Linked DNA regions of Homo sapiens. The protein of the gene in region 1 interacts with the protein of each later gene in a pairwise test. Each region holds a gene or a part of one and is shown on either strand. Other genes may lie near its edges.

Region 1 (3,836 bases):
AAGTGCAGAGCTGCATTGTGGGCCTGGGTCTCCGGGTCACAGGTAGGAGGGAGACAAACTCTAATGGTCTTTAAGCTACTTCATTGTTGGTATTAGAGAAAATAGGGAAGTAAGGCGGGGAGGGAGAGAGAACAGAAAAGATAAACACTCCATTACTCCATTAACAAGCCATCTGAGTCTGTCAGATAGAAACCTACTTCGTTATACAAGGAAGGGATGACAGCATAATCAGCTTTAGTAATGGGGGTTTGCCATTCACTTAATGAGAAGTGAAAATATTTAACTCAGTATATAAACATTTTTTTTTGGCAAAAAGCAAACAAAGTAATGTTTTTGAATATATAAAGAACAAGGTCTTGGTAACAAATGAAAAATATTAAGACAAACTGCCAACAACTCGCTGGATCATAAGAGAACAAGAACATTAAAAATTCCTTAGGTGCTATTTTTAAACAGCCGGGAACACTGCCTTAAATTTATTAGCTATTATTTTATAAAATAATAGAAAATAATGGTGTATAATAGTATATAGTATATAAAAAATAAGCCATGTAGCTTTTTCAGGAGGAAACATGGATGGTAACTTATTAAAAGCCCAGGATTACAGATTTCATCTAATCACATTAGTAAAAGCATGTCCACAAAGATAAAGACCAAAGACTAATGATAGATAATAATGGCTAGAGCTGCAGGGAGGGCCTTAATGAGAAGAATGCGGAGAAGTGATGGGTATGGTTGGCTTAAGTAACTTAATATAATAGACCAAATAAGTATTAATGAAGACAAAACCAGCTGACTTTCCACCTTTTACAGGTTAATGAACTCTGCAGCTTTCTGTGTATCATAGATCATAACACAAAACCCAAGTGAAGCTTGTGAAGAGAGAGAATACAGATTTGAAACTACTGAGGCCAGCATGTAGTGGGTCATGCCTTTAATCCTAGCACTTTAGGAGACCAAGGCGGGAGGATCACTTGAGGCCAGGAGGTCGAGACCAGCCTGGGCAACAAAGTGAGAGTCTGCCTCTACAAAAAATAAAAATTAAAAAAAAAAAAAAAATTAGCCTGGCTATTCAGGAGGCTGAGGTGGGAGGATTGCTTAAGCCCAGGAGTTCAAGGCTGCAGTGAGATGTGATCATGCCATTGCACTCCAACCTGGGTAACAAACAATGTGAACTCAAATCTTTAAACAAAAAAAAAAAAAAAAAAAAAGGAGAGAGAGAGAGAGAACGAAAGAAAGAGAGAAAGGGAAAGAGAAAGGGAAAAGGAAGAGGAGATTGGGCCTTCCTAGAAAAAGGAATATTTTGCCTTCCAATGAATCACCAGAAAAAAGTAGAGCTTTAATCTTTGACCTTGAATCACAATAGTATCATAACAAAAGAACAAATCTTGATGAAGTAATTTTACTTTCCTAAAGAAAACTGTCATTAGTAAACCTTCAATTACTCACAATTCCTAGTCTTGAGCTCCCAGTAACTCAAGCTTGTGAAGGATTAGGTTCTAATGCAATGGGAGCCTACCACCAAATATATTTATAAAATAAGCAGTGCAATTCAAAACTTCCTCTACAAATGTATAATCTTTGCTTATAAAACCCACATTGATGATCCCAAAGCTTTAATAAAAAACAATAAAGAAAGAAAAGGAAAACCACTTATTGGTACTAAAGCCTTTACTGTAATAAACCAAATATATTTACAATTTATACAAATGTTTAACCTTCAACAAAAATACAAAAAAACATTTCACAAGATGCAAAACCAGGAAACAAGTTCATTGGAGACACCACTGCTCTACAAAGGACGGAAAGTGAGGTGAACTGCAAGGAACAGAAAGGTAATCTCACACTTGGGCAAGGCGTGATCCCCAGATCACCCAGAAAGAAAGAATGGGCTGTCATGTGAGTCGGCAGATTCCGTTCCTCAATCCTACAACCCATGGCCCCTCTGTCCGCTTGGCCTTGGTGCTCCATTTGGTCTATGTAGACAGGTGACTTTCTGCTGATGGACTTGTCGCCTCCTCTTTGTAGACTCAAAGTAGTTTTCTGTCAAGGTTTGGAAACAGGTGTTTGTAATTTTTTTTCTCTTTTAAAGTTACAACTTTTCTATTTCTATAAATTCGAAACATTTTGGCCCAATTCAACTATAAACGTTAAACCACATAATGTTTTCAGTAGATGACTTCATAGACTGTAGCCTTCTTGTCCCCCGAGCCAGTGACTATGTACTTATCATCCACAGAGATGTCACAGCTAAGCACTGACGAGGACTCTTTGGACTGGAAGAGAAAACAATGGACATGTGTTTAATGTGGAACAACGGTACTCAGAGGCCCTGCTCCCTCGGAGGCACCTTCACTCCTGGCTTCAGAGGCGACACTGTGGTCAAACTGTGGATCTAGGTGAGGAGTACTTACTCACCTGGAATATGCTGGCTCCATAGGGGGTCCGCCAAGCATTGAGGAGGTTATCTTTTCCAGTACTCACAAACCATTTACCTAGAATTAGCAAAGGAATATCTAGTTTTCACAAGGTTAAAATTCCTACTATACAATTAGCAACTTGGACTTAATCAAACTAAGAACATTTTTAATATATGAACTATCATGCCCTAAGGACTGGTCCATGATATGAACAGAGGTTTTAATCTGGGCTCCTCAGTGATTTATCAGTGATCTTGGGTATAATCTAAGAGGTATCAGCCTCCTTAGTCACTGGATACAGGACTAGTAGCATCATATCCAACACACGGTAACCCTCAAATATAGAAATCAATGAAGAATGTGTTCTATTTTAGTCAGTCTCCTCATGATAAAATGGGATTAAAGATTCCCATCTTTAATGGGAATTAAAGGATTAAACATCCAACTTAAGTAAAATGCCAGTCACATCATATAGCATGAAGAAAAATGCTCAATAAGTGATAGGCACTCATCCACCCATCCATCCATCCATCCATCCATCCATCCATCCATCTATGCATACTGTGAACAGATATCTGCCCATCTGCAGCACACAAGAAGGGTCACCACATGAACTTCTTCCCTCTTCATCCTCACTGTAGAGTAGAGTGTAACTAAGTGTCTGCGTATACCTAAATATCGACTTCTCTAACCCTGGATTCCTCATCATGGCCAGCTCATAATGACTTCCACTGCCCCTGCTCCATTCTTCAATAAATTCCCGCCCACCCCTCTTCAGAGTAGAAACTCATTGTCGTCTCCCAACCCCTCCAAAACAAACTTGTGTCCAAACCGTGTATTAGGCAATCACATTGCCTGCTGACTTTTCTCAAATTAGCAAAACAGACTGAAACAGACATTGCTGTGCTCTGAAGGGCATATTAAAACAATAGAATTATTGCATCCAGCTGCTCGGAGAACATTTTTTCCAGATTATGATCTCTACCATATTTTTTTAAGAAGCATTTTCCATTTGGGCCATCAACGGCCTCCAGTTTCCTTTCGGCTGAACTCACCACAGTAAGCAAATTTCAGGGACAGCACGCAGCTCTCATGCAGGTGCAGCTGGTACTTGTCAGGCTTGTTCACGTGCAGCACCTCCACATTGCTGCTCTCCATGCCCACTGCCAGCCACTCCCCGGTGGGGCAGTACCCCAGGGAGAAGATCTACAAGGAGCAAGACAGGCTCACTCATTATTCCGCCTGATACACTTAGGAAGGGAAGACGCAATGTGAAAAGTGGGGAAATAGCAAGAATGGGGGGAAGTAATCAGCCAAGTCCAGACTGTGGGGAGGTCCACAGGGCAAGTGATCTAACGCAGATGAACCAAGTGTCAAAACCTTTAGGAAACTGGAAACATTTGAACCCCTCTGTCT
Region 2 (4,423 bases), on another chromosome or scaffold:
ACTCCAGCCTGGGCGACAGAGAGCCAGACTGCGTCTCAGAAAAAAAAAAAAAAAAAAGATAAAATATAAATGTACATTTTACAACCTTTTTTATAAGGCTAAGCACCAGGAAATCTATAAAATAGTAGCAATATCTAGCACCATTTATTACCACTGAGGCAGCGGGTTAAGGAATGTATTCGCAGTGTCAGGAAAGCACAGGGTCGCCAGAGTGAATTGCATGTGGAATTCTAGAAGAACTTTGCTTGCCATCCTATGGGATTTGGACTGCAATTTTAATACAACAGGGAATCATTATGGTCTATTTTCTCAAGATTCTGATTAAGTAGCATAAGCGAGTGTGGAGCATCATGAATTCATGCTGGCAAATCATGAGGGCAGACAGGTAAAGAATCTGCCCTCATCTTTGCACTTGGCTTTCTAGGCCCATCCTCTTGGAGCTGTAGTGGGGATCTGGGGACACAGGAAGAGGGAAATGGCCGAGTGCACGGTAAGTGCACCCTTTATGGCGATGAGAACCTGCCACAGAACAGAATGCTGTTGGCTCTGTTGTGCCTGATGAAGAAAAGGAAAGGGTGGTCAGCACAGAACCTGGGGCCAGATTCCATGCAGCACTCTGCAACTACAAAGCAGCTCGACGCTGCCGCTGCCTCGGTGCCTTCTTCATTCACCTCCACAAAACTCTTGTGCACGAACTTGGACAGACACAGGTCTCTCTCCGCTGACATTGCCGACAAGTCAGCCTTGCCCTGTTGGAAGGCATCAACAATTCCCAAATGCCGAAGCACAGATTCCATGTCATAATCCTCTTGTAGTTTAAATTTTGGAAGGAGAACTTCAACCTCAGTACTCTTCATACAGTCTGGCTTGGTCCAGGCTGTGAGTTTCTCAAAAGTGAGACTTTTTTCCACCTGAAAGACCAGAATTAGACTTTAAGATTCCGACTTCAGTGCACATGTACAAGCGCACAGGCACTCACAGTTCCCTTCCTCCCCTTGCACGTAGGTGTTGTTTGTTCACATAGGATCAGTGGCCCCTTCATCTGCCAGAAGCTTGTGAGCACTCTTACTTGTCCTATGTCCCATGTGCCACTTCCTTGACAAGGGGGAGAGACACCAAGCAGTCAGAGGCAGGAAGGCTGTGGCTGTCCTCTCCTTATCCAACAACTCCAGAGACATCTTGTATTGTGACAAGTGTCAATGCCCAGGCGACTGTGTTTTTTTTTCAAACATAGTCTTTTTAAAGACAACAAACCATTGCTAGTAAAGAAAAGGATTGGAAACGAAAGGGCTCTCAGTGTGAGCCACTCCAACAGGATTATCTGTCCCAGGTGAGATTCTGCATAGTTTCCGGAGCAGAGAGGTTACCAGAGGATTATCTGCCCCAGAGAGATTCTGCATAGTTTCCGGAGCATAGTTTCAGGAAGGTGGGCAGAGGGAGAGCCAATGGCTGCTGCGCACACAGACCTCTTAAGTCATGGGGTCCCACTGCCTGCCATTTGCCATGGTTGACTCTCTCACCCTGGAGATCCATGCTGAAAGGAAGCCGAGTGCCTGGATGTGCCCTCAGAGGCTGCCTCTGGTCCCACCCTCTGAGAACTGGACTTCACACCTCCCTGGATGCCCCCTCCCAGCCTTGTTAGGTCAAAGTTAAGACTTCCTCATTCTCTATTTCAGGTTCCTAGACTTTAAAAGCATAATGCTAAGAATGATGATTGTAATAATGGATCACATTTGTAGAGCATTTACTAGTTGCCAGGCAATGTGGTAAGCTTGTTACCTGAATTACCCACATTTTATCCTCATCATAACTCTAGGAGGCAATAACCCCGAGCAGTCATTTATGCTTTTAGAGTTAAAAGTCTGCCATTCATCAAACTAGCAGGATTTTTATAAGCTTCCTCCTACCTGATTTATTTTAAAAGGCATTTTAACCGCCGCCCACTCCTTCTAGCGATGAAAAAACAGAGGACTGAGATGTGTAGTTTGGCAGATCACGCAGACAATATTGGGAAAAGTCAGCCTTGAACAAAAGTTCGATCCCAACGCCAAGTGCCTGCACAGTGTGCGTCTGCCGCATCGCCAACTCAGAAGGTGAATATGAGAGGTGGAAGTGGCACTCGAGTTCTGCCCGCAAAGGTGTCCCTGGGTTCTTCCCGCAGCCCGGGTCTTACCGTGCTGAGCTCCACGCCGTCGTCAGGCAGCAGCACCAGCAGGCTCAGCTCCTTCCTGGCGTAGGGCAGCTCCAGCAGCTGCGCGCGCACCTCGCCCACGTGGGCGAGCTTAAACGTGGCCTCCTGATACATCATCTGCACTGGCCTTTGCTCCTCCTGGGGGAAGGATTATTGAAAGACGCAATTAAAACTTTCAAAAGAGCTGCAGTTGCCTCCAAGAGTGTTTTCAGCACCTGTGATGGAAACCGCCACATTCATGCCCCAGTTAACACTAAAAAAAAAAAAAAAAAAAAAAAAAAAAAAAGTCAACCAGTTCCTTCCTATCTTCATTGCAAGCAGACACAGTACCACCCTGGGAAAGGTTTTCTTCTGCAAAATAAAATGTGATACCCTACATTTTCCAGAGGAGAAAGATGTTTCTCATTTAAATTGTGCTCAGCAAATAGATCTAAGAAAGCAATATAATCAAATGAAATTAAATACAAATTTGTTTTGATTTAATTAGAAAAAAATGTGTATTGTTTTTCCTATTTATCCAACCCAACATATGAGAAAAAAAATCATAAAGTGGGATGAAACTTATAGTTCCACAACAGCATGACAGGGAGTATAAATGGATACACTCTCTCAGAAAGAGTAACGACCTACATATGTAGTAATGTATTTTAACCCAATCTTTTCAATTCTGATACTCTAATGAAATAACTTTTTTAAAATACAGAAGAGGCATAAGCACATAGAAGCTCAGCAAAGTATTACATTTATTAACGTAATACTTTAAAAAATTGATACAGATCATTTATTATAAAAATTAAAATAGTTCTAAAACCAGGGTTAGAATTCTCCTCCTCCCACCCTTTGCAACTAGAGAACTAATTTTTTTAAGTTAAAGTACACCTTACAAAAAATGCAGGAGGGTTACCTGCTTTTGTTTTTTAATTACATTAAAATAGTATCTTTTTAGGGGCTGGAAGATTTGGCAAATTATTCTAATGCCTGCCTTAATTAAGTTTTACTTCAATGTCAAAACTAAGGTCTTTGTCATGAAGTTTTAATATTAAAAAGCTGTAAATACTGAATTAATGATAATTAGTTAACAATTCAAATCAAAACTTACTTTAATTTTAAAAATAACTAATTAAAGACACATGTTTTCACCTTCTCTCCCTCTACCCTGCCCTATACTGCCTCTCACTCCCACATATCACACTACCTTAACACTTTTTTTTTTTTTTTTTTGCTTTCTAGCCAAGTAAATTGGGCTTATAGGAAGATCTTTAGTTTCCAAAACTAGGTGGCAGCAATGGTTTATGAGAAATTATCAAAGGCAGTTAAGAGCAGTGATAAAACACTACATATATATATATATATTATATATACGTATATATAATATATATATGCAGCAAATATCTTTTACTCCTTCCGTTTTTTTCTACTGAGTTAAGAAATTCATTCAGAAATACTTTAAGTTTCAAATTCCTTTTGGCTTACGCTTATGTCACTTACACTTTTACAAAGTTAAATCTTTCCATTCAACTTCTTCATCAAACTAGCAGGATTTTAAAAAGCTTCCCCCACCTGGTTTATTTTAAAGGGCATTTCCCTTGTGTATGTTTCGTCAAACGGTTCATTCCACTTTCCTTTGAAGTAGATGGCATTGACAAGAACCAGCCTGGTTTCTGCATCAATTGAGCTACCCGGCAACAACTCTTCAATTTTACCTTTCAAGAAAAGTAGAGACTACATTCAGTTGCTTTTTATAAGAACCTGATGCATTGGATGATCCTGGATCATTAGTTGAGAAGCAAACTTCTGTTTTCAACTTTGCTGAGTTTGGGTTGTTATGTAGAGAAATAAAAACAGCACATATGAGTGGTATTCATGATTACTGACACCTTGAGAACATCCACCAAGTTGAGGATGGTGAAAGATACCTAAGTCACTCGAGGAAAGCAGGTTGGTACAAAGTAGAAAAATTACACCAGGTTGGAGAACAAGACCAGCAGGAAATGTGATAGGCTGAAGGGGTGTTTGTCTCACATGGTTAATTGGAGTGTTTGATCCAACCCTTCATGATCACACCCAGTTCTAACATTCTGTGACTATACATGGACATGTCAGAAGCAACCAGAATGGACGGCTCAAAGCGGGAAGAGCTGACATTGGGCACATGGGGAGTTTCCAGAAGCTTTTGGAGGAGATATTCCTGCTGAATCCCCTCAACAAAGCACTAGGCATCCCTGGAAAAGA
Region 3 (4,653 bases), on another chromosome or scaffold:
TTCTACGAGGATAGGTATATAAAGAAAACACATATCCTCCAACCTCATTATCCAAGACTGTTTCAGATGATCCTGGACCCTACCTGTTTGACCCTAACTGCTGCTTTCAAGATGCACCTCACGGTTTGCATAGATTTAGGTAAAGCCAGATTCTACATGGCAAGGGCTTATTAAGAAAGTAAAATGGCCAGACACGGTGGCTCATGCCTATAATCCCAATGCTTTGGGAGGCCGAGGCGGGCGGATCACCTGAGGTCGGGAGTTCGAGACCAGCCTGACCAACATGGAGAAACCCCGTCTCTACTAAAAATACAAAAAATTAGCTGGGCATGGTGGCGCATGCCTGTAATCCCAGCTACTCCGGGGGCTGAGGCAGGAGAATAGCTTGAACCCGGGAGGTGGAGGTTGCGGCAAGGCCGAGACTGCACCACTACACTCCAGCCTGGGCAACAAGAGCAAAACTCTGTCTCAAAAAAAAAAAAAAAAAGAAAGTAAACTGGCACTCAGCAAGAAGGCTGTCTTCATTTCTTCACTTATTACCACACTGGCAAGGAAACAGTTTCATAATGCTTACAGAAATGCTCACTGATAAGACAGTAAACTGCTCATTTCCAAAACACATAACAACTGACCACATCATGATTAGTGATTTTAGTTGCCAAAATCAACTCGTTTCTCGTCTTCCAGTTACCTAAGGGTATGAAGACAGATATGTCAAGTGAGAGACTGGCTCTTATCTCTAGACCCAGGCAAAAGGCAGCTAAAGGTTGAAGGTACCATCAGGCCTGGGACCCAGAGATAAAATTCAGAGTATTATTTTTGAAATGTTTTGTGGACAACTTGCCAGGATATACATGGGAAAAACTCGAGGGTAGAACAGGAGTGATAAGATGATCCACTTTAGATTTTGGAAAACAAAAAATATCAAGTTCCTGGGAGAAGGAACTATGGGTGAAGTTTTAAATCTCAGAGTGGTGGTTCTCAATCCTGGCTGCACACCAGAATCACTTGCACAGACTTTTTAAATTATGAATGCCCAGGACCCACGGGTTCAATCTAGGCTTAAAGAATCAGAAAAAGGCCAGGCACAGTGGCTTATGCCTGTAACCCCAGCACTTTGGGAGGCTAAGGTGGGAGGATCATTTGAAGCCAGGAATTTGAGACCAGCCTGGGCAACATGGTGAGACCCCCATCTCTACAAAAAAAAAAAAGATAATAAATTCCTAGGAAGGGGCCCCACACACCCCTATTTTTTTTTTTTTTAAGTTCCTCATGAGGTCAGGAGTTTGAGACCAGCCTGGCCAACATGGCGAAACCCATCTCTACTAAAAATACAAAAATTAGGCCGGTGTGGTGGTGGACACCTGCAATCCAGCTACTCAGGAGGCTGAGGCAGAAGAATTGCTTAAACCGGGAAGGCAGAGGTTAAAGTGAGCTGAGATCGCGCCACTGAACTCCAGCCTGGGTGACAGAGCAAGACTGTCTTGAGGGAAAAAAAAAAGTTCCTGAGGAGATTCTGATGCACAGCCACCACTGAGAACAACTGCCAAGAACTACTGTCAAGACACATTCCAAAATGGACAAGACCACTAAACTCAGGCTCCAGAGTCGACAAATAAATGACTTAAAAACTTAACCCAGCTTCTCAGTTGTTCCACATTTCCCTAATGGAAAGGTCTCCACCAAGTAGCAGTAGGTATATCTCAGCCTCCCCCCATTACCAAATTAAGGGCCACAAGTTTTTCACAGTTAAATTACTTGGCATCTTCATTTCTAGCTCTAGTTCTAACAGGTGGCTCGGCCTAGAGGTCAGAATACCAGTCAGCAAGTTTCTGCTGCTGATTCATGCTGTAATCACAAGCAAGTTGCTTACCCATCATCCAGAGTAGTTGACAAGCACCTCCAGAGGGGCAACATATGGCCTTACTACAGAATCAACTGACAACAAATTGAATCCAGCTGAAATTAGTAATTCTGAATGAAAGGAAGAGAGAGGTGGTATCAGGAATGATGCACATGCCAGTAAGTTATCTGCTTGCTAAGTGTGATTATACAAAGCTTATTGAAAAATACCGCCTAGGACTTCATAAAAATTTACTTGGACAAATCACTCTTAACACTGCTAAGCCTCTATTTTCTTTTCTGTGAAACAGGACTAATATTCTACCATACTTCCTCATAGAATCATGAGGATTAAGAAAGAAAACTTCTGTAAAATGCCTACCATAGTGGCTGACACACAGTTTTACTATGATTTGAAAGCCTATCATTAATAAATCCAAAGCGTTCCTGTCAAGAGCACCCACTAGACTTCCAATGAAGCCATATAAACCAAGGAATCCAGCCAACGGGCCCTGAAATTCTTTTAATTTCTCTAAGTGGTTTTACTGAAGGCTTCAAATCACCTCAATTTTCAAAGCCATTAAAATCTCCAGGTCCATTTACAGCTCAGAGGCATTCTTCAAGGCAGATTACCACTAGTAACCTGGTTTCTGGTACCAGAATAACAGGAAGAATGCCAGGGCAGTGCTTCATACCACCAACCTCAAAATAACTGCCTCATAATACCTGACCTTCCCTTAACCTCCCTGGCAGTTCTATCGGCCCAGGGGGATGGGACAAGAGCCTGGTTCCTGGCCAGAGTCCACTGCCTGCCCATAAACGGCCTACCTTCTCTCTTGCCTCTCTTTCTTTGCTCCCTCTAAATGACTTTCCCCACTTTCTAACCCACCTTCTCTCCTCTGAGCTATATTCACAGGATATTTACTGCTGCATGTTCTCAGAAATACCTATTAACACTACTGGAATGAAGCTGTAGGAATATAATCAAGAAAAGGAATGTTATATAAATGTTCAGGCAATTAGCCCAGGCAAAGAAACTGTGGTATGCGACTCTAGCCGGAAAGATCAAGAAAATCCTGGTAGCCAAATTTACATATTTCCTGTGTACAAATGAAGGGCAAATTTAAGCCAGCCACTGGAACAAAATCTCAAAGAAATTAATCATGTAGCTAGGAAGCAAATGGCCATTAATGACAGTTTACAGAATAGAAACCAAAGGGCTTTCTTCCACGAGGTAGAAAAGGGGGAGAAAAAAAGTGACTTAAATATTTGAATACTGAAAACTCTTGCTCTTTTCACCTTGACAAAAGATAAACTATCTTTTCACCTTACGCTTGTTTTCCCCTCAACTCAGTACTCTGTAATTCAAGAGGTCCTTTCAATGATTCCCAGCAGAATCAAGTATATGAAGTGTTCAGCTTATGAGATACTGCAGAAATCTTTTTATGGGATTATGCGGAGCTTGAGTGTACCCTTTTGTTAGAGCAACCATCTCATCGTGAAGTCACTGCATCAGAGCTCCTGAGTATCTGCTGTAGTAGCACTGGTCTTAGCTGTTACGTTCCTAAGGCAGCTTAGTTTCAACTTTAAAAATCAGCCAATATCCAGTTTCCTAACCTTTTAATCTCCACATATCCTGCCTTTTAATTTGTTCCTAAATGCAAGCAGTGGATTATGGCTAGTGAAGAAGCATGGATTTGGCTACAAAGCCCATCCTTCCTTGCTAAACGAACACGCACAGCAGAAGCCAGAAAAGCAGACACTGGCGGTGGCAAACATGGTCAAGCTTTCTAACACACACATTAAACAAAAAAAAAAGAATGCTGCCTCAAGGCACATATGTGTTATTTGTAAAATCTAACAAAGGGCCTTTACATGAGTTTTTGTTTTTTTAGACGGGCTGGAGTGCAATGGTGCAATCTTGGCTTACTGCAACCTCCGCCTCCCGGTTTCAAGGGATTCTCCTGCCTCAGCCCCCCGAGTAGCTGGGATTACAGGTGCGCACCACCACGCCGGACTAATTTTTTGTACTTTTAGTAGAGACGGGGCTTCACCATGTTGGCCAGGCTGGTCTCAAACTCCTGAACTCAGATGATCCACCTGCCTCGGCCTCCCAAAGTGCTGGGATTACAGGCGTGAGCCACCGCACCCGGCCTACATGAGTTTTTACAGAAGTTTTCTTGTTTTGAGACGGGGTCTCACTCTGCCACCCAGGCTAGAGTGCAGTGGAGTGATCGTGGCTCACTGCAACCTCGAACTTCTGGGTTTAAGTGCTCTTCCTCCTCCCCTGCCTCAGCCTCTTCACAGCTGGGACTACAGGTGCGTGCCACCACGCCCGGCTCATTTATTTTTTTGTAGGACAGGGTCTCGAACTCCTGGGCTCAAGTAATCGGCCTGCCTCAGCCTCCCAAAGTGCTGGGATTATAGCCACCCAGCCCATTTGAAATGTTAACAATGACAAATACTTGCTTTGGTCAAACTACTATAGAATTCTGTATCATCTTGTTGGGTAATCAGAGTTAATTCCACTAACCAACATATTCAAAGTGAAGGACATAGCAGTAAAATTCCTTAAATACCTGTTTGTTTGTTTTATTTTAAGTTGTCACAAGCTTTCACCTACTGCTAAGAAATAAACTTAAGGCATTTATTGCAACTGACTAATGAATGTATGTTAGTGGCTTAAAGAGGAGCCCCAGAAAAATTAGTTGAGAATTCACAGTTGGAGAACCAAATCCTTAACATACATCTGGGAATAGAGTACAAAAATAAACTTACTTATCAATTGCTTTGAACAGACCACTCTAAACC
Region 4 (4,653 bases), on another chromosome or scaffold:
GAGCCCAGTCGTGCGATCTCAGATCACCACAACCTCTGCCACCCAGGTTTAAGCGGTTCTCCTGCCTCAGCCTCTCAAGCAGCAGGTGCAAGCCACCATGCCTGGGTACTTTTTGTATTTTTAATACAGACAGAGTTTCACTATGTTGGCCAAGTTGATCTCGAACTCCTGACCTCAGGTGATCTGCCCGCCTTGGCCTCCCAAAATGCTGGGATTACAGGCGTGAGCCACTGTGCCCAGCTTTTTTTTTTTTTTTTTTTAGGGACAGAGTCTCACTCTATCGCCCAGGATGGAGTGCAGTGGTAGGATCATGGCTCACTGCAGCGGCAACCTCCCAGGCTCAGGTGATCCTCCTACCCGAGCCTCCTGAGTAGCAGGGACCACAGGCACACACCACCATGTCCAAGTAATGAGGTCTCGCTATATTGGCCAGACTGGTCTCGAACTCCTGGGGTCAAGTGATCCTCCCACCTCAGCCTCCCAAAGTGCTGGGATTACAGATGTGAGCCACTGCACTCAGCCTGAAAAGTCTTCACAAAGAATAAAGTTGGGAAGAATTTGGTGAGCAGTTCTCAAAACATACCACAAAGCAGCAATCATCAAACAATGTGTTATGGGAACAAGGACTCACAAAGCAGTCAATGAAATGTGAGACCCCAGAACACACTGTTCTTTTTTTTTTTTTTCCAAGACAGAGTCTCGCTTTGTCACCCAGGCTGAAGTGCAGTGGCACAATCCTGGCTCACTGCAACCTCCGCCTCCCAGGTTCAAACGATTATCCTGCCTCAGCCTCCCCAGTAGCTGGGGTTACAGGCGCTCGCCACCACGCCCGGCTAATTTTTGTGGTTTTTCTTTTTTCTTCTTTTTTGAGGCGGAGTCTCAGTCTGTCACCCAGGTTGGAGTGTGGTGGCGTGATCTTGGCTCACTGCAACCTCCGCCTCCCGGGTTCAAGCAATTCTCCTGCCTCAGCCTCCCAAGTAGCTGGGATTACAGGTGCCCACCGCCACACCAGGCTAATTTTTTGTATTTTTAGTAGAGACGGGGTTTCACCATGTTGTCCAGGCTGGTCTCAAATTCCTGACCTCGTGATCCGCCTGACTCGGCCTCCCAAAGTGCTGGGATTACAGGCGTGAGCCACCACACCCACCCAGATTGTTCTACTTCTAGACCTCGCTACAATGCTGACAGTTCCATGATAGAGTGAATAAAGATACGTTAGGCTGGGCGCGGTGGCTCACACCTGGAATCCCAGCACTTTGGGAGGCCGAGGTGGGTGGATCACCTGAGCTCAGGAGTTCACCATCACCCTGGGCAACATGACGGAAATACTGTCTCTACTAAAAATACAAAAATTAGCTGGGCGTGGTGGCGCACACCTGTAATCCCAGCTACTCAGAAGGCTGAGACAGGAGAATTGCTTGAGCCAGGGAGCTGAAGGCTGCAGCATGCGGAGATCACGCCACTGTACCCCAGCCTGGGCAATAGAGCAAGATTCTGTCTCAAAAAAACAAAAAAGGAGGGGAGGCCAGGTGCGGTGGCTCACGCCTGTAATCCCAGCACTTTGGGAGGCCGAGGTGGGCGGATCACCTGAGGTCGGGAGTTTGAGACTAGCCCGGCTAACATGGTGAAACCCCGTCTCTACTAAAAAATACAATTAGCCAAGTGTGGTGGCGGGTGCCTGTAGTCCCAGCTACTCGGGAGGCTGAGGCAGGAGAATGGCATGAACCTGGGAGGCGGAGCTTGCAGTGAGCGGAGATCGCGCCACTGGACTCCAGCCTGGGCAACAGAGCGAGACTCCGTCTCAAAAAAAAGAAAAAGGTATTTTAGATACTAACTTCATGGGACCAGCCAATGTGCACATCTACAAAAGTGCAACCCTGGAGATCTTCAGTTCTCCCTTCAAGCCCCATGAGAGAATCAGATGTTTAATTCCCACAGATCATTCAATGCACAATCACTGCGTGCCTACTGTGTGCCAGGCTCCAGCGCGCTGAGATGGACGGGTGCCCATCCAGGACCGGGGAACAGCCCAGAAGCCGCGTGCAACCCCTGGCCTCCTCCCCAGCACAAACGCCGACCCCTGCGCGACGGTCCAGACACTGGGGCCACCACCAAGGCCTGCTCCCAGCCTCCTCTCTGCCATGTCTCAGCTCACCCTGCACCCCCGCCAGGGACCAGGCCCAAGCCCAGGCCACTTGCTCTCCTCACAGCTGGCAAGGCCCGGCCCCTCTCTGCTCATCGGTGAACTCCAGACTTTATCCCAGCACCCCCAGTTCGTCCCGACATCCCCCCACCTTTTTTTTTTTTTTGAGACGGAGTCTCGCCCTGTCACCCAGGCTGGAGTGCAGTGGCGCAATCTTGGCTCACTGCAATTTCTGCCTTCCGGATTCAAGCCATCCTCCTGCCTCAGACTCTGAGTAGCTGGGATTACAGGTGCGTGCCACCGCGCCCAGCTTATTTGTGTATTTTTAGTAGAGACGGGGTTTTGCCACGATGGCCAGGCTGGTCTCAAACCCCTGACCTCAGATGTCTGCCCATCTCGGCCTCCCGAAGTGCTGGGATGATAGGCGTGAGCCACTGCGCCCGGCCTCAGCTGCTGTTTTCTTTCTCTCTGCTGTGTGGCCTGTGGCTGTCAGCAACCCATCGGGTCCGTTTGTTCCCACAGCCCCAGGACAGATGTGTCTGAGTGACCTTGTTTCAATCATGGAAACTGAGGCACAGAGCACTTGGGACACACTGCTCTGCGGACCTCTCAGCCCCAGGTCCCGCCAACACATCCAAGCCAGTACTTGTCCCTCCTGAGCCTGTCCTGGCTTGTGATGCTCCAGCCAGAAGTCTGGGGACCCCCACCACAGCCCCCCACGCCCTCACCTGCCAAGCTGCCTCCTCTCCTGGCCACAGGAACTCGCTTCCTCCAAAGAGGACCTGCATCCTCTACCCCTCATTTCTGCCGTCCCCACCGAGCCCGCTGCTGTCTCCTGCCTGGAGTCTGCAGCTGCTACTCCCCAGCCTCGCTCCTGGGCCCATCCACGGCGCGTTCCACCCTCAATGCGGATCTGGTCACACTGGGCCACAGGGCCTCCCTCACTCCTCCTGCTCCGGCCTTGCCATGGCTCCCACCTGCCCAGCCCCTCTGGGCTCTGGGCCTTCCATCCCTGAGCCTGGGGCACTGCACTCTCCATCAACATCACTTGCTCAGGGGGTCGTTCTGGACCAGGTCAGTGCCCCCTCTCCATTTTCAACCCTCCTGAAATGCTAAGGAAACACAGATGACCTTTCAACAAGGCAGGCTTCAACTGCACAGGTCCACTCATATGTGAATTTTTTCAATAAAGGCTGCCCCAACGGTGCCGGCCTCTCCTGCCTCCCCTTCCACCTCTGCCACCCCGGAGACAGACCCACCCTCCTGCTCCTGCTCCTCAGCCCTCAATATGAACACAAGGACACAGGCCTTCATCGTGGCCACCTCCACTGTGTGAACAGCAAACAGGATTTCTCCTTTTATTTTTTTTCCTTTTTTTTTTGAGACAGAGTCTTGCTCTGTCGCCCAGGCTGGAGTGCAGTAGCGCAACCTCGGCTCACTGCAACCTCCGCCTCCCGGGTTCAAGTGATTCTCCTGCCTCAGCCTCCCAAGTAGCTGGGACTACAGTTGTGCACCACCACACCCGGCTAATTTTTTGTATTTTTAGTAGAGACGGTGTTTCACCACGTTGGCCAGGATGGTCTCAAACTCCTGACCTCATGATTCGCCCGCCTCGGCCTCCCAAAGTGCTGGGATTACAGGCGTGAGCCACCGCGCCCAGCCTGTCCTTTATTTTTTTTGAGATGGTGTGTCACTGTGTCGCCTGGGCTGGAGTGCAATGGCGCAATCTCGGTTCCCTGCAACCTCCACCTCCTGGGTTCACGAGATTCTCCTGCCTCAGCCTCCTGAGTAGCTGGGATTACAGGTGTGCGCCACCACGCCCGGCTAATTTTTGTATTTTTGTAGAGACAGGGTTTCACCGTGTTGACCAGGCTGGTCTCGATCTCCCGACCTCGTGATCTGCCCGCCTCGGCCTCCCAAAGTGCTGGGATTCCAGGCGTGCGCCCCCGCACCCGGCCCCTTAGACTTTTCTGAATGTATTTTCTGTTCTCCAGCCTGTTATTGTGAGAACAGGAGGCTGGTGTGCATTGACCAAGTGTCCTCACAAGGCCTCCGGTCAGCGAGAAGCCATTCCTAGTTAAGTTCGTGGGAGTCAAAAGTTGTACTTGGATTTGAGCTGAGTGGGGGTCCACGCCCCTAACCCCGCATGTCGAGGGTCCGCTGTCCCAGGCCCGCCCACCTTACCTTGCTGCTATCTCCCGCTGGGCCTCATTGCCCTCTCCTGAGCCCCCCGGGGGCAGACCCCTCACCTACTTTTCTCCAAGGGGTCCTTGTCCTGCCTCCATCTTCCCCACTTTGCAACCGAGCCAGCGGTCCCTCAAGTGCAATCGCATACATGTCCCAAGGTCAGCCGGTGCCCGGGGCGCCCCACCTCCCCCCTCAAACAGAAAGCCTGGGATTCTCCAGCTGCACCTGCTGCTGGGTGAGTTCCAGCTGCATCCAACCTACCCCCTCCCCAAAGAGCACAAAGACCACCCAGGTGGAGGGAGCAAACCCACCGCCCCTCACTC
Region 5 (4,639 bases), on another chromosome or scaffold:
GCCTCCTGAGTAGCTGGGACTACAGGTGTGAGCCACCATGCCCGGCTTAATTATTGTGTTTTAATAGAGTATTTTTAGGCCAACTTCGCCATGTTGGCCAGGCTGGTCTCGAACTCCTGACCTCAAGTGATCCGCCCACCTCGACCTCCCAAAGTGCTGGGGTTACAGGCATAAGCCGCCACACCCAGACTACATGTTTTCTTTTAAGCATGCAGACATACACGGACTCACAGAGACACACATAGAACACACAAGAACAGCCAGCCCTGCCATATGCATCTCGTTCCACACACGCACTCTCTGAGGCAGTGAGTTAGGTAGAGAATGGCATATAGACACACACGTAACACAGTGTGAGACCCAGAGAGACCCAGGGATAAGTGTACACAGAGAACCACACACACAACACAATAAAGACATACACAAAAGGCAGGGCACAGTGGCTCACGCCTGTAAACCCAGCACTTTGGGAGCCTGAGGTGGGCGGATCACTTGAGGTCAGGAATTTGAGACCAGCTTGGTCAACATGGTGAAACCCTGTCTCTACTAAAAATACAAAAATTAGCCAGGTGTCGTGGCGGGCACCTGTAATCCTAGCTACTCAGGAGGCTGAGGCAAGAGAATTACTTGAACCCAGGAGGTGGAGGTTGCCGTGAGCCAAGATTGTGCCACACACTCCAGCCTGGGCAACAGAGCGAGACCCTGTCTCAAAAAAACAAAAAAAAACATACACAAGAGTCTGATATTCCCAGCCACCCAGGGCAAGTAAGCATATACCCAGGGTATGAACAGACACAAAAACCTACACAATCAAGGGATACTGACAACAGACAACACCCTGCGGTAGACCATGAGGACCCCAATAGGCATAGTGCTATCCTATGACACACAGAGGACACACACACACACACACACACACACACACACACGCAGATAAACTCCAACATGTGCACGATCTCCAGTCATTGAATTGACACCTCATCTGTCCTTTTTCCTCCTCCCCAGCTTAGCCAAAGATTATTCGGCCATTAGGCTTGCAGAGCCTCAGAGGTAGAGGTCTGTGTGTATGTCTGAGAAGTGGGGGTGGGGAGATGGCCTTGGTCACTGCAGAGCCACCTCCCCCTGCTGCTCTGGCCCCACTGCTGCGGGGGCTGCTATCTGTGAGCAAACTGTCCTTGGGGTCAGGGACAGCAAAGAGCCAAAGGTCAGGTCGATGCCTCCCCCAACTCCTCCCCCAGAGGCAGCCAGCTCTTAGGGGCAGGAAGCAGAAGGGACAGAGGAGCAGAAATTCAGGTGTTCAAGCCCCACAGGGCCCACTGGCCAAGGAAAAGAGACATTCAGTAAGAGGCGGACACGGTACCTTTAATGATTAAACACAGCCAGTACCCCGCTTCCCGGGAAAGAATCAGACTTCAGTAGAAATTCCCCACACCCTAACCAGCCTTTTCTGGTTTCTCCTGGACCAGAGTTGGGGGAAAGGGTGGGCTTCAGAGAAAACCAAGGAGTATTCTCACCTCCATCCCCTACCCAACCCATGCCAGAGAGAATGGTGACGACATGGCCAACACGGGGCTGCAGCAGCCATCATGGCACATGGTGGCCCACTGACGTTGTCACCTACCCAGTATGATGTCCATCAAAGCACCCAATGGGCCAAAAAAGGTGTTACACAGAATGGTGGCCAACTTGGCACCTACTGTGCCAAGTACACCAAAAAAGAAGTGGGCACAGCACCTAATGGGGGGGGCCAAAGAAGATGTCACTGAAATGCTATCACCATCACACCCAAAGGGCCAACCGAGATGGTGGCCATCAAACCATGCAGTGGATTAGCCAATAACATCCATCAATGTAGCAGTCCTCACAGTACCCAGTGGGCCACCAAAATGTATCCATGGTGGTTATCACAGTACCCCGTGGATCAACACCATGCCCACTGAGACAGCAGTCATCACAGTAAGTAATAGACCCACCCAGATGTTAACCAATGGGACAAGTGAAGTGTCACCAGAAGGATCAGGCCCCAAGAGCTTCGTGGTGTGAGCTCCAGCCATACCCACCACCATGTTCCCAACCCCTGCTAGGATGCATTAAGCAAAGAGCGGGAATAGAGGCCCTGGTAGTAGACTCCAGGCTCCCCACCTTCAGCCCCGTAGCCCCCAAACCCCACGTCCAGTTTGGGAGGTGCTGGTGTCTGTTCTGACATTAGGTTGTTGATGGAGAAAGGGTGGTTGAAGTTGTAGGGCGCGTCCAGCTTCAGCTCCCCTGGGAGCTCCAGGCCAGTGAAATAGGGTGTGGAGGAAGCGGGTGAGCCACAGTCCAGAGCCCCCACATCTTCCCCGCCCTGGGCCTCAGGCTCAGGGGCTGGAGGCGGGGGCTGGGGCGGGGAGGTGACTGTGGCCGCGGGGGTGGTGGTCGAGGCAGCAGACCCTGTCCCGTTCCTGGTGGTGGTGGCAGCCCCGCTGCCCCCTTTTTTCACCTTCTCCTCCAGCTTGAAGCGTTTCTGGCGGCGCAGGTAGCAGCCATTCTCAAACATGTTCCCTGAGCTGGGGTGTAGGGCCCAGTAGGAGCCCTTGCCAGGCTTGTCTGGGGAACGCGCCACCTTGACGAAGCAGTCGTTGAAAGACAGCGAGTGGCGAATGGAGTTCTGCCAGCGCTGCTGATTCTCCCGGTAGTAAGGGAAGAGGTCCATGATCCACTGGTAGATTTCACTCAAGGTCAGCATCTTGCCCGGCGCCTGCTGGATGGCCATGGTGATGAGTGAGATATAGGAATACGGTGGCTTGGCGTGTGCCAGGGGCCGCCGATACCCCTTCGGCATCTCCTTCCCGTGCACCAGCCCAGGACCCGGGGCCCCGTACCCGGAGCTGCTGCTGCCACCGCTGACACCCAGGCCTGGGAAAGTGGGCCCCAGGGGGGCTGCAGGTGCTGGGGGTGCCAGGGGTCCTGAGGGCAGTGGGGAGGCAGGGAGCCCCCCAGGGGGATAGGGAGAGCTTAGAGGATTCAGGGTCATGTAGGAGTTGAGGGGGGCCATGGTGGGCACTGGGGTCACCGGCGAGTAGACCTAGGGGAAAGATGAAAGGAGGGGTCAGTGGGGCTCCACTCTGCTGGTCAGCAAAGGATCCCAGGACCCACTGAGTGTCCGTCTGTCTGTCCATCTTGCCTTCTCTACAAATCCCTTCCATCATTACCTCTATCTGTAGAAAGCAGTCTCTCAAGGTCTCTCCTCACTCCCTGGACACGCCCTTTCTGCCCCCTGCTTTCCCACCCACCATGCTCCCATACACTCAACATCATCCTTTAAGTGATTCTCCAGGGTTCGGGACTCCCAGGGCAGTCTCTGAAACCCTTTGAGGATGTCCACGAAGTCAAAACTATTTTCAAAATAATGCTATTTTTTTTTTCGAGGCAGAGTCTTGCTCTGTCGCCCAGGCTGGAGTGCAGTGGCGTGATCTCACCTCAATGCAACCTCCGCCTCCTGGGCTCAACCAATTCTCCTGCATCAGCCTCCAGAGCAGCTGGGATTACAGGTGTGTGCCACCACGCCAGCTTTTTTTTTTTTTTTTTTGTATTTTTAGTAGAGACAGGGTTTCTCCATGTTGGCCGGGCTGGTCTTGAACTCCTGACCTCGTGATCTGCCCGCCTCGGCCTCCCAAAGTGCTGAGATTACAGGCATGAGCCACCACACCCGCAATCCTAAGTTATTATTAGCCCTTTTCACTCTCTTTCTCATGAAGTGTACAGTGGAGTTTTCCAGGGGGTGTTGATATTCCAACAGAGAGAATGAAGAAGCAACCAGGAGAATCCAGCTGTCTTCCACTGGGCCAGACTTGATTTGCAAAAATGGAAAAAAACAGTGTCGCTCTTTTGACTAAATTTTTTGAAATTTGGTTTTTTTAATAAAAATCTTTTACACTAACAAATGATTGCTATTTTTAAATGAATACATGTTTGTAATATTTCTCAGTTTTAATTGTAAATACTGTAAACGTAGATAGACATAACCCACATCAACAGAAACTGTTTGGACTCCTAAATAATTTTTTTTTTCTACAGGGTCTCACTCTGTCACTCAGGCTGAAGTGCAGTGGTGCAATCGCAGCTCACTGTAGCCTCAAACTCTGGGGCTCAAGTGATCCTCCTGCCTCAGCCTCCCAAGTAGCTGGGATTATAGGCATGCACCGCACACCCAGCTAATTTTTTTGTATTTTTAGTAGAGACGGGGATTCACCATGTTGCCCAGGCTGTTTTCAAACTCCTGGCCTCGAGTAATCCTCCTGCCTCAGCCTCCCAAAGTAATCCCAGAACTTTGGGAGCCAAGGAGGGTGAATCACTTGAGGTCAGAAGTTCAAGACCAGCCTGGCAACGTGGCAAAACCCTGTTATCTACCAAAAATACAAAAATCAGCCGGCATCGTGGCACAGGACTGTAATCCCAGCTACTCGGGAGGTTGAGGCAGGAGGATCGCTTGAGCCCAGGAGTCTGAGGCTGCGGTGAGCTGAGATCATGCCACTGCACACTCCAGCCAGGACAACAGAGCAAGACTCCATCTCAAAAAAAAAAAAAAAAGAAGGGGGGTGGTCCTGAGACCAAAACATTTAATAACTGCTGGTTTATTAGGTAAATCAGCAGTTCTCAA
Region 6 (4,155 bases), on another chromosome or scaffold:
AAAAATCCTTTATGGTTGAAAAAAGTGGGAAAAGAGAAAGACATAGGAAATAGGACCATGACAATGGAAGTTTCCCAGCTGAAATTCAAAAGCAGAACAGTTTTTCTAAAGGGCTGTAAGCAATAAGTTTAAAGTGACAAAATTATTTAAATCACTAACATTGTACACTGCAAGCCTTTTCTGTTTCTTACCAAAAACATAGTTAATAACTCACTATTATCATTGATGATAGGAAAATAAAGAAATTATGGCAAATATAGCAAGTCATCAAAATTGTGTCCAACTATTACAGATCAAAGAAAGAAGAATAAAAGTGGTAGAAATGTATCTAAGTATTCTCATAATATTCTAAATATGCTTCTGTCCCAAGAGTAACCTCCCCTCCTCACCAATCCTTGCTGACAGCAGAAATGAGTGCTATTACAACCTTACAGAATGGCTTAAGGTACAAATATGGATGATTCTAGCTTGCTCTCTGGCACCACCTACTGATCAAACAGCATTTCAATGTAAAACAACACAATCTGAATTTTCCTCTTCTCAATACAACCTATGCTTTGGAAAAAATCTAGGTACTCTCTCAGTCCACTCATCTGGATTCTGCACAGATATTAACATCTCAAAAATGGTATTCTAGAAAATTCTGTCTTGTTAGTAGGAACTTTGATCATTTTTGTGTCTAAACAGAAATGCCAGGATTGTCAGTCTGAAGTTTCAAAATGAAAACAACAGTGGGATGGATCACTTTATCACTTTAGGTACCACATCTATTTAATGTGACTGTGGAGGAGGTAAGATGATTGTGTGACGTTTATGAAAGGACTAAAAACCTTTGCTGCTTCAGTTTGTTTTTGATTAATGACTCACGCCCCATCATTCCCAAATCCCACCTTGGCTCTAAAGAATCATTAACATTCAGTATATTTTAATCAGATATCAATTTATTATGGAACCATTCATTTTCTGCTCATTAGCACTAAACATTTTTTTTTGGGTCAAGTATCCATGTCATATTATGTAGAAAATGGTCCTTCATGCCAACAGACTTACATGTATAAAACATGAACACCCCCAAACTCTGGGGAGTATTCCAGAATGGGGCAAAAGAGAGGCTGGGAAGTACCATTTACTACACAAATGTAATAAGATGGACAGAAACCTTTATTAGAGTTGGAAAATCAAGTTGGAAACAAACACATGAATTCACTACTTAATGCATTTAATTCCAACCCCTCATTGGAATCATCTTGGTAACATTTAAGATTCTACAACAGTTATAATGCGACGATTCAGAGGTGGTCTCAAAGTTGTTACAGTGTTAAAAAAATTATAGTAAGCAGTATAAAATTACAATTTATTATGGGGCCAGGGGGATTCACAACCATCCTTAAAAACATTAAGAGCAAACCACGGCCAGGCATGGTGGCTCACACCTGTAATCCCAGCACTTTGGGAGGCTGAGGTGGGCAGATCACTTGAGGTCAGGAGTTCAACATGATGAAACCCCGTCTCTACTAAATATACAAAAATTAGCCAGTCATGATGTCGTACACCTGTGGTCCCAGCTACTCGGAGGGCTGAGGCATGAGAATCGCTTGAACCTGGGAGGCGGACGTTGCAGTGAGCCAAGATAGCGCCACTGCACTCCAGCCTGGGAAACAGAGCGAGACTCCGTCTCAAAAACAAAACAAAACAAAGAAAACATTAAGAGCAAACCTTTTAGAGAATTCTACTTAAGATTTCTTTTTCTCAATTCCTTTCCCCCACTCCTTTTGTTTTTTTAAGCACTAATCTGGAATGGAGTCGGCGGGACAGAGCAAAGCTGGATGGGCTGCCCCTTGAATGATGGAGTAGGTCTGCTTGGGTAGTTCTTGCTGGGAAGAGGAGGAGAAGACCGGTGGCGCTGTGGTGGCCACTGCGATGTTCTGGCCTCCATCGCTCACCACTGTCACTTCTGCTGTCCCCTCCTGAATCAAGGCGTTTAGGCCTTCAAAGTCAGTGCAAGTAATACCCGAACTGGTAATGAAAGTTTGATTGCCAGAGCCTTCCTGGGGGCCACCTGAGGCCGTGGGGATGAGAGTCTGGTGCAGAGTGGCTCCGTCCGTCTGCTCGTGGGTGGTCAGCAGGACAGCCGGCTGGGTCATTGCGCCCGCCTCGCTCGGACACCGCGAGGACTGAGGGGGGGCGATCAGACTGACCTGGCGCAGGATCTGCAGCCGGCTGTTCCCTGGGAGTTCCTCTGGGTTCTGGGCCACCAAGGCAGGCGGGACGATGTTCACTGCAGCGGCGGCAGCCTGGACGATGGTGTTCGCCTGGGGCACCTGATGCCCAACGATGATTTTGACTCTTCCCTCGCTGAACTGGGGCACTTGGCTGGGCTGGAGGGGCACCTGGAGGTGTCCCACAGTGAGGGGCGTGGCGGGCTGCTTGCTGGGGTCGATCTGAAACTGGAGAACGGTCACGTCCGAGTTCTTACTCTCACTGTACTCACTGTGCTGTCTCTTGTGGCTGCGGAGCGAGTCCTCCCGCATGAAGGAGGCATCGCATATATCGCAGTGGAAACTCTTCTTGGCATCCAGCTTGGCCACCTGCCGGCTGCTCTGCCTGCCGGTGTCCTTCCTCTCTAGAGCCTCAGTCTTAACCATGTCCCCATGGAACTTCTTCATGTGCTTGCTCAGGTTGCTGGGCTGTTTGGTGTCGAAGCTGCAGTAGTTGCACTTGAAAGGGCGGTCGGTGCAGTGGATACGCTCGTGGATGCGCAGGGCGGCCTTGCTGGAGCAGGAGTAGCTGCATTCCGAGCACTTCTCAGGATGCTCCGACTGGTGCACGCGGCTGTGCTTCCGGAGGGTGGCTTTGCTGTCACCCAGGAAGTCGCAATGAGGACACTTGAAGTTATTCCCGCTGTGCTTGATACGGATGTGCGACTTGAGGTTCCCCTTCATGGTGCAGCGGACATTGCAGAACTCGCACTTGAAAGGCTTCTCCCCCGAGTGCACCCGCATGTGCCTTTTCAAGTCCGAGCTGATTTTGAACTTGGCGCTACAGAGCCAGCACTGGAAGGGGGCGTCCCCTGTCAACACAAGGTGAGTTTCGATAAGAACAGGCAGGCAACAACCACAGCGGATCCCCCCGAAGCACACACCAGAAAATCGCTTATACAAGGTGGGTGGGTGCAGACCTCCTAACTGCAGCTTCTAGCAGCCCCTGGCAGTGGGGGAAGAGGGGCAGGGCGTCTTTATCTTTCCCCGGAACCCAAACCACCACCACCGGTATCAAACCCAGAAGAAAAATGGGAGATCGAAAAGAGCAATTTAATTGTCCCAGATAAAATAAGATTTACAAGTATACTTGTTATATTCTTTAAAACACTCAAACTATCTTTCATACAGTTAATTTGCCCACTCTGCTAGTTAATGGTTCACAGTTGAAGACTTTTGCACAACCCGTTGATTTTGATTGAGTTACATGTTGTAACAGATTCAACAATATATTTTCGAATGGGTCAGCTCCGTGCTGCACTCATTGGAGTATGGTTTTACAATGACTGAAACACCCAGCTTATATTTCATGCAGATCTTTATTAATAAAGATGTGTTTCTTGCACAAAATTTATTTATCCCATATTGCCAGCTGCGTTCTTTACTTGTGAAGTTACAAAATCCAGCTGCTTGATTTTTTTTAAAAAAAATTCATATTCGCTGAAAGATGAGCAAGGCAAGTGAAATTGCAAACATCTGATTGGATACCATATTCCAAATTTACTTCCTCAATGAATGCCAAGTCCAAATTATCTGAGGCAATGACAATTCAAGCAAATTGGCGACCCCTCATCTCAACATTGTTTAAGTAAGCAAAATAGCAGCTAATATTCTTCGATGGCTTCCGGGATGGCAGGCGCTATGCTGAGCACTCCACAAGCATGGTCTCGCTTGATGCTGGGAAGATTGCCCTGTGGTGGGTGCTATTATTAATATTGTTTTTTAACACAGTTACACAGAGGAGAAGGCTGAGACCCAGACAGACTACATAACTTGTTCTTGGTCGCCCCGTAGTACAAAGAAGGGCTTGGATTCCAATCCAGGCTGACTCCACAACTGGTATCTTTAGATGCTAGGTAATTATCTGTGCATATAACTGATGTTTGCTTTCTTAGGT
Region 7 (4,653 bases), on another chromosome or scaffold:
AAGGTGGAAAAATCTTGCTCTGAAGCTCTCACTTTCGTTTGAGTTAAATATTATTTTTATTCTTGAAGGAAGTTCTGGGAGTTTGTAGAAGTAGCCAGAAAATATCTTTAGAATATAGTGCTCTATGCGATATCCTGAGACTTTTTTTTCTTTTCTTCTTCTTTTTTTTTTTTTTTTGAGACGGAGTCTCTCGCTCTGTCGCCCAGGCTGAAGTGCAGTGGCACAATCTCGGCTCACTACAAGCTCCGTCTCCTGGGTTCACGCCATTCTCCTGCCTCAGACTCCTGAGTAGCCGGGACTACAGGCGCCCGCCACCACACCCAGCTAATTTTTGTTGTATTTTTTAGTAGAGACAGGGTTTTACCACATTAGCAAGGATGATCTTGATCTCCTGACCCCGTGATCCATCTTCCTCGGCCTCCCAAAGCGCTGGGATTACAGGCGTGAGCCACCGCGCCCGGCCTATCCTGAGACATTTTTGACAGTGCTGCAAACTATTACTATTTTTTCAGGTAGAAATATTTTATTTTATGTTGGAGATGGGATCTCGCTTTGTTGCCAGGGTTGGTCTTGAACTCCTGGCTTCAAGTGGTCCTTCTGGCTTGGCCTCTCAAAATGCTGGGATTACAAGGCATGAGCCGCAGTGCCTGGCCTGGAAATAATTTTTACTACAGATTCTTTCCTCTTTAAATTAATATTATGAGTTATGAAGCTCCTTTTGTATAATAATACCCATTATATGTTGTCTACCAGGGTATTGGTTTGCTTTTTCTTTAAAAAGGAGAAAACATGTAAGGTGGAGGAAGTGTAGTTTACTCTTAGGCATTCAGACAGTTTTTATTATTGGTGTCATAAAAAACCCCAAACCATTTGCTGAGACCAAAAACTGTAGTTTTTAAATTTTAACACTTAATTTTTCTCCTGTGGCTTGTGCGAAGTTTTTAGGTGTAAAGCATGAATAAGTAAGAGATTCATTTAACAAAACATTATTTTAGGAAACAAATATGAAAAAGCGTTAAAACCATTCTTTTTTCTCTCCTAGCATTTTTGAAACGTTGGGGTTGTTGGAGTGGTTGGATTTTCCCTGGAATTGAGTGAGAAATTCAGAAGACTGAAGCCCAGGCTTACTGTCTACCTTTCACGGAGGCCTAGCCGTGAGAGGACAGAAGAAGGCACGTGGCGAATCATGACAGCGGACAAAGACAAAGACAAAGACAAAGAGAAGGACCGGGACCGAGACCGGGACCGAGAGAGAGAGAAAAGAGACAAAGCAAGAGAGAGTGAGAATTCAAGGCCACGCCGGAGCTGTACCTTGGAAGGAGGAGCCAAAAATTATGCTGAGAGTGATCACAGTGAAGACGAGGACAATGACAACAATAGTGCCACCGCAGAGGAGTCCACGAAGAAGAATAAGAAGAAACCACCGAAAAAAAAGTCTCGTTATGAAAGGACAGATACCGGTGAGATAACATCCTACATCACTGAAGATGATGTGGTCTACAGACCAGGAGGTAAGGAGCCTTACGTTTGGGTCTTGCCAATGTTTACAGTGGGGGAATGATCTTGGCATTATGGTGAAATAAATACGCTTTGTACACTTTAAGGAAGGCTTGGAATCTAGAAGAGTAGGAAACTTAATTTGGTAAACATGTGACCCACTTTTGGTCAGTTAGGTTCACCCACTTCTTGCTTGTGTCTGCCTTAATTTGCTCTTGTGTCCTGGTTTATGCATTCATGAGTTCTTTTCTTATTTTCCTGTGCTGCTTGTTCTCTAACTGGACCATCTGCTTAGTATTTTTTTGTCTTTTGAATTCATGCTTGCTTTTTAATCTTCAATCATAAATGAGACTGTGGTGACCCTGCAGAATTGACTGCTTGGTGGAGACAAGTAAACCTTAAGATTCTTGGAAACAGGAAATTTTACCTTGGGACAGGATCGACCAGACTCTAGAGAGGTACTTTTTAAAAATGGCCTTTAGGCCAGGCATGGTGGCTCACGCCTGCAATTCTAGCACTTTGGGAGGCTGAGGCGGGTGGTGACCTGAGGTCAGGAGTTCGAGACCAGCCTGACCAACATGATGAAACCCTGTCTCTACTAAAAATACAAAAATTAGCTGGGCTCGGTGGTGTGCACCTCTAATCCCAGCTACTTGGGAGGCTGAGACGGGAGAATTGCTTGAACCCAGGAGGTGGAGGTTGCAGTCAGCCGAGATCACACCACTGCACTCCAGCCTGGGCAACAGAGCGAGTCTCCGTCTCAGAAAAAAAAAAAAGCCCTGAAGATCAGAGATGTATTGCTCCTGCTAACTTCCTTTTCCAAAAATTTGAGCTTCAGGCTCTCTAATCAACAATAATAGAAGTAGTCATCTAACCTGCTTGGTTTTCCAGAAAATGTATTATGGTCACACCAGTATATTGTGGCTTATAGCATTGCTCAAAAAAAGACAGACTCAACTTTTAGATGAGATCAGGGAAACAAGTGAGTCAAAACCTGTTGAACACTAGCAAAGCCTTTCCTTTTCATTTGATGTATTGTGTGTATTAAGACACCTTTTTTAGGCTGGGCACAGTGTAATCCCAGCACTTTGGGAGGCGGAGACAGAAGGATTGCTTGAGCTCAGGAGTTCAAGACCAGCCTGGGCAACGTAGTGAGACCCCCATCTTTACAAAAAATTTTTACAAATTAGCTGGGCCTGGTGGCACACACCTGTAGTCCCAGCTATTCAGGAGGCTGAGGCAGGAGCATCACTTGAGTCTGGGAGGTCGAGGCTGTAGTGAAGCATGATTGCACCACTGCTTTCTAGCCTGGGCAACAGAGCAAGACCCTGTCTCAAAAAAAAAAACAAAAAAAAACAAAACAAGATCCTTTCTTACAGAAGCCAGTAAAACCTAGGTGAAATCATTTTGTTTGAGTTACTTTTACTGTTGAAGAGTGACATGAATTTTGTATGAGATGTAATTAGCAGATTAAAGCTGCCCATTTTTATGTTTTTCTGAGAAGGAGATTAAAATACTTCACTGTGTTATGTCCATAATCTGGAACAATCATTTTACTGAGGAATGCTGTTACTGTTATGAACTTCACGTCAAGTTCCAGATTTTCATTCTCCCACACAGGAGTTTTTTAAATTTCAAAAGATGTCAGTGGGGCTGGGCACGGTGGCTCATGACTGTAATCCCAGCACTTTGAGAGGCTGAGGCGGCGGGAGGATTGCTTGAGTAGTGTGGAGACCAGCCTGGGCAACATAGTGAGACCGTATCTCTGCAAAACAGTAAAAAATTAGCTGGGAGTGTGATGAGACTGCAGTCCCAGCTACTCAGGAGGCTGAGGTAGAAGAATCCCTTGAGCTCAGGAGGGCAAGGCTGCAGTAAGCCCCGTTCACATCATAGCACTGCAGCCTGTGCAGCAGAGCAAAACCCTGTCTCCACCCCTCCCCCCCGCAAAAAAAAAAAAAGTCAGTGCTAGAACTTAATACAGACAAATTTGCATTCACAGCTACAATTTCTTGGTTGGAGATTAACTGAGAAGGTATTTGTGTGATATAAATTGATCAGAGTGGAGGTTTTAGAGCAGTTAGAAATCTGCTGTAACGATTAAATGATGTGTGTAGGTTACAGTACTGTCTGTATTTATCTTTGATGTAGACTCAGCTATTGGGCAGTAAGAATTTCTTAGTGACTGAAGAATCTCTCAGAGTTACCACAGATTGCTTGTTTAGGGCGTACGCACATCTAAATCATGGGAAAGGAACAAAACATGTTAACCCTTTTTTTTTTTTTTTTTTTTTTGAGGTGGAGTCTCGCTCTGTTGCTTAGGCTGGAGTGCAGTGGCGCGATCTTGGCTCACTGCAAGCTCCGCCTCCCGGGTTCACGCCATTCTCCTGCCTCAGCCTCCCCAGTAGCTGGGACTACAGGCGCCCACCACTGCGCCCAGCTAATATTTTGTATTTTTAGTAGAGACGGGGTTTCACCGTGGTCTCGATCTCCTGACCTCGTGATCTACCCGCCTCGGCCTCCCAAAGTGCTGGGATTACAGGCGTGAGCCATCGCGCCTGGCCAACTCTTTTAGATATAGATTACATTATGATAACTTCAGTATAAGGAAAGATTTACTTTTTTATTATCCTTTCTCTTGATAACAATTTAATGTGGTAATACAGTTTGGATCACTGTCAAAAGGCAAGCTGCCTTGTGCAGTATTGAATGCTAACCTTTCTCAGCATTTATAATATGGAACGTTATTCTGGTGTCAGTGGGGACATTTCACCAAAAATAGTAGTCAAATATGTGTGGAAAATGCTGCCTGTACAGTCTCCCTCATGAGAGAGTCAGAATTAGTGACTCCAAGAAGCCCGACAGTTAAGGAAACCTCTTTAACATGAAAAACACCGGCTATTTTTCCCATTTATGGGACTGTGGCACCCTGTTTCTGCTGAGTATCTCCCTAAAAATAGAAATAAACCAACAAACCACAAACAGTCTTGGATCTGGGCACAGTGGCGTGTGCTTTTAGTCTCGGCTACTTGTGAGACTGAAGTGGGAGGATCTCTTGAGCACAGGAGGTCAAGGTTGCAGTGCTCTATGATTGTAGTGAAATTTTTACAAATTAGCTGGGCGTGGTGAACTATGATTATAGGAAGTCCTCCTGATAAT

Evidence for each region.
Region 2: the proteins of TLE1 (region 1) and SERPINB9 interact in a two-hybrid assay, tested with the Homo sapiens proteins (one large-scale study listed by BioGRID and IntAct).
Region 3: the proteins of TLE1 (region 1) and RNF10 interact in a two-hybrid assay, tested with the Homo sapiens proteins (one large-scale study listed by BioGRID and IntAct).
Region 4: the proteins of TLE1 (region 1) and BTBD2 interact in a two-hybrid assay, tested with the Homo sapiens proteins (one large-scale study listed by BioGRID and IntAct).
Region 5: the proteins of TLE1 (region 1) and FOXA3 interact in a two-hybrid assay, tested with the Homo sapiens proteins (one large-scale study listed by BioGRID and IntAct).
Region 6: the proteins of TLE1 (region 1) and ZFP64 interact in a two-hybrid assay, tested with the Homo sapiens proteins (one large-scale study listed by BioGRID and IntAct).
Region 7: the proteins of TLE1 (region 1) and RERE interact in a two-hybrid assay, tested with the Homo sapiens proteins (one large-scale study listed by IntAct).

What each region holds. Positions count from the first base shown.
Region 1 is NC_000009.12:81,582,030-81,585,865, forward strand, and holds the end of TLE1 (transducin-like enhancer protein 1), read right to left. Parts: intron 3,627-3,836; coding exon 3,476-3,626; intron 2,496-3,475; coding exon 2,419-2,495; intron 2,277-2,418; coding exon 2,169-2,276; 3' UTR 1,654-2,168; downstream 1-1,653. UniProt on the Homo sapiens protein: Transcriptional corepressor that binds to a number of transcription factors. Inhibits NF-kappa-B-regulated gene expression. Inhibits the transcriptional activation mediated by FOXA2, and by CTNNB1 and TCF family members in Wnt signaling.
Region 2 is NC_000006.12:2,889,660-2,894,082, forward strand, and holds part of SERPINB9 (serpin B9), read right to left. Parts: intron 3,895-4,423; coding exon 3,752-3,894; intron 2,330-3,751; coding exon 2,174-2,329; intron 912-2,173; coding exon 504-911; 3' UTR 1-503. UniProt on the Homo sapiens protein: Granzyme B inhibitor.
Region 3 is NC_000012.12:120,536,689-120,541,341, reverse strand, and holds part of RNF10 (E3 ubiquitin-protein ligase RNF10), read right to left. Parts: intron 1-4,653. UniProt on the Homo sapiens protein: E3 ubiquitin-protein ligase that catalyzes monoubiquitination of 40S ribosomal proteins RPS2/us5 and RPS3/us3 in response to ribosome stalling.
Region 4 is NC_000019.10:2,008,349-2,013,001, forward strand, and holds part of BTBD2 (BTB/POZ domain-containing protein 2), read right to left. Parts: intron 1-4,653.
Region 5 is NC_000019.10:45,870,500-45,875,138, reverse strand, and holds the end of FOXA3 (hepatocyte nuclear factor 3-gamma), read right to left. Parts: intron 3,065-4,639; coding exon 2,081-3,064; 3' UTR 1,342-2,080; downstream 1-1,341. UniProt on the Homo sapiens protein: Transcription factor that is thought to act as a 'pioneer' factor opening the compacted chromatin for other proteins through interactions with nucleosomal core histones and thereby replacing linker histones at target enhancer and/or promoter sites.
Region 6 is NC_000020.11:52,150,359-52,154,513, forward strand, and holds the end of ZFP64 (zinc finger protein 64), read right to left. Parts: intron 3,071-4,155; coding exon 1,788-3,070; 3' UTR 920-1,787; downstream 1-919. UniProt on the Homo sapiens protein: May be involved in the regulation of mesenchymal cell differentiation through transactivation of NOTCH1 target genes.
Region 7 is NC_000001.11:8,652,831-8,657,483, reverse strand, and holds part of RERE (arginine-glutamic acid dipeptide repeats protein), read left to right. Parts: intron 1-1,042; 5' UTR 1,043-1,186; coding exon 1,187-1,511; intron 1,512-4,653. UniProt on the Homo sapiens protein: Plays a role as a transcriptional repressor during development. May play a role in the control of cell survival. Overexpression of RERE recruits BAX to the nucleus particularly to POD and triggers caspase-3 activation, leading to cell death.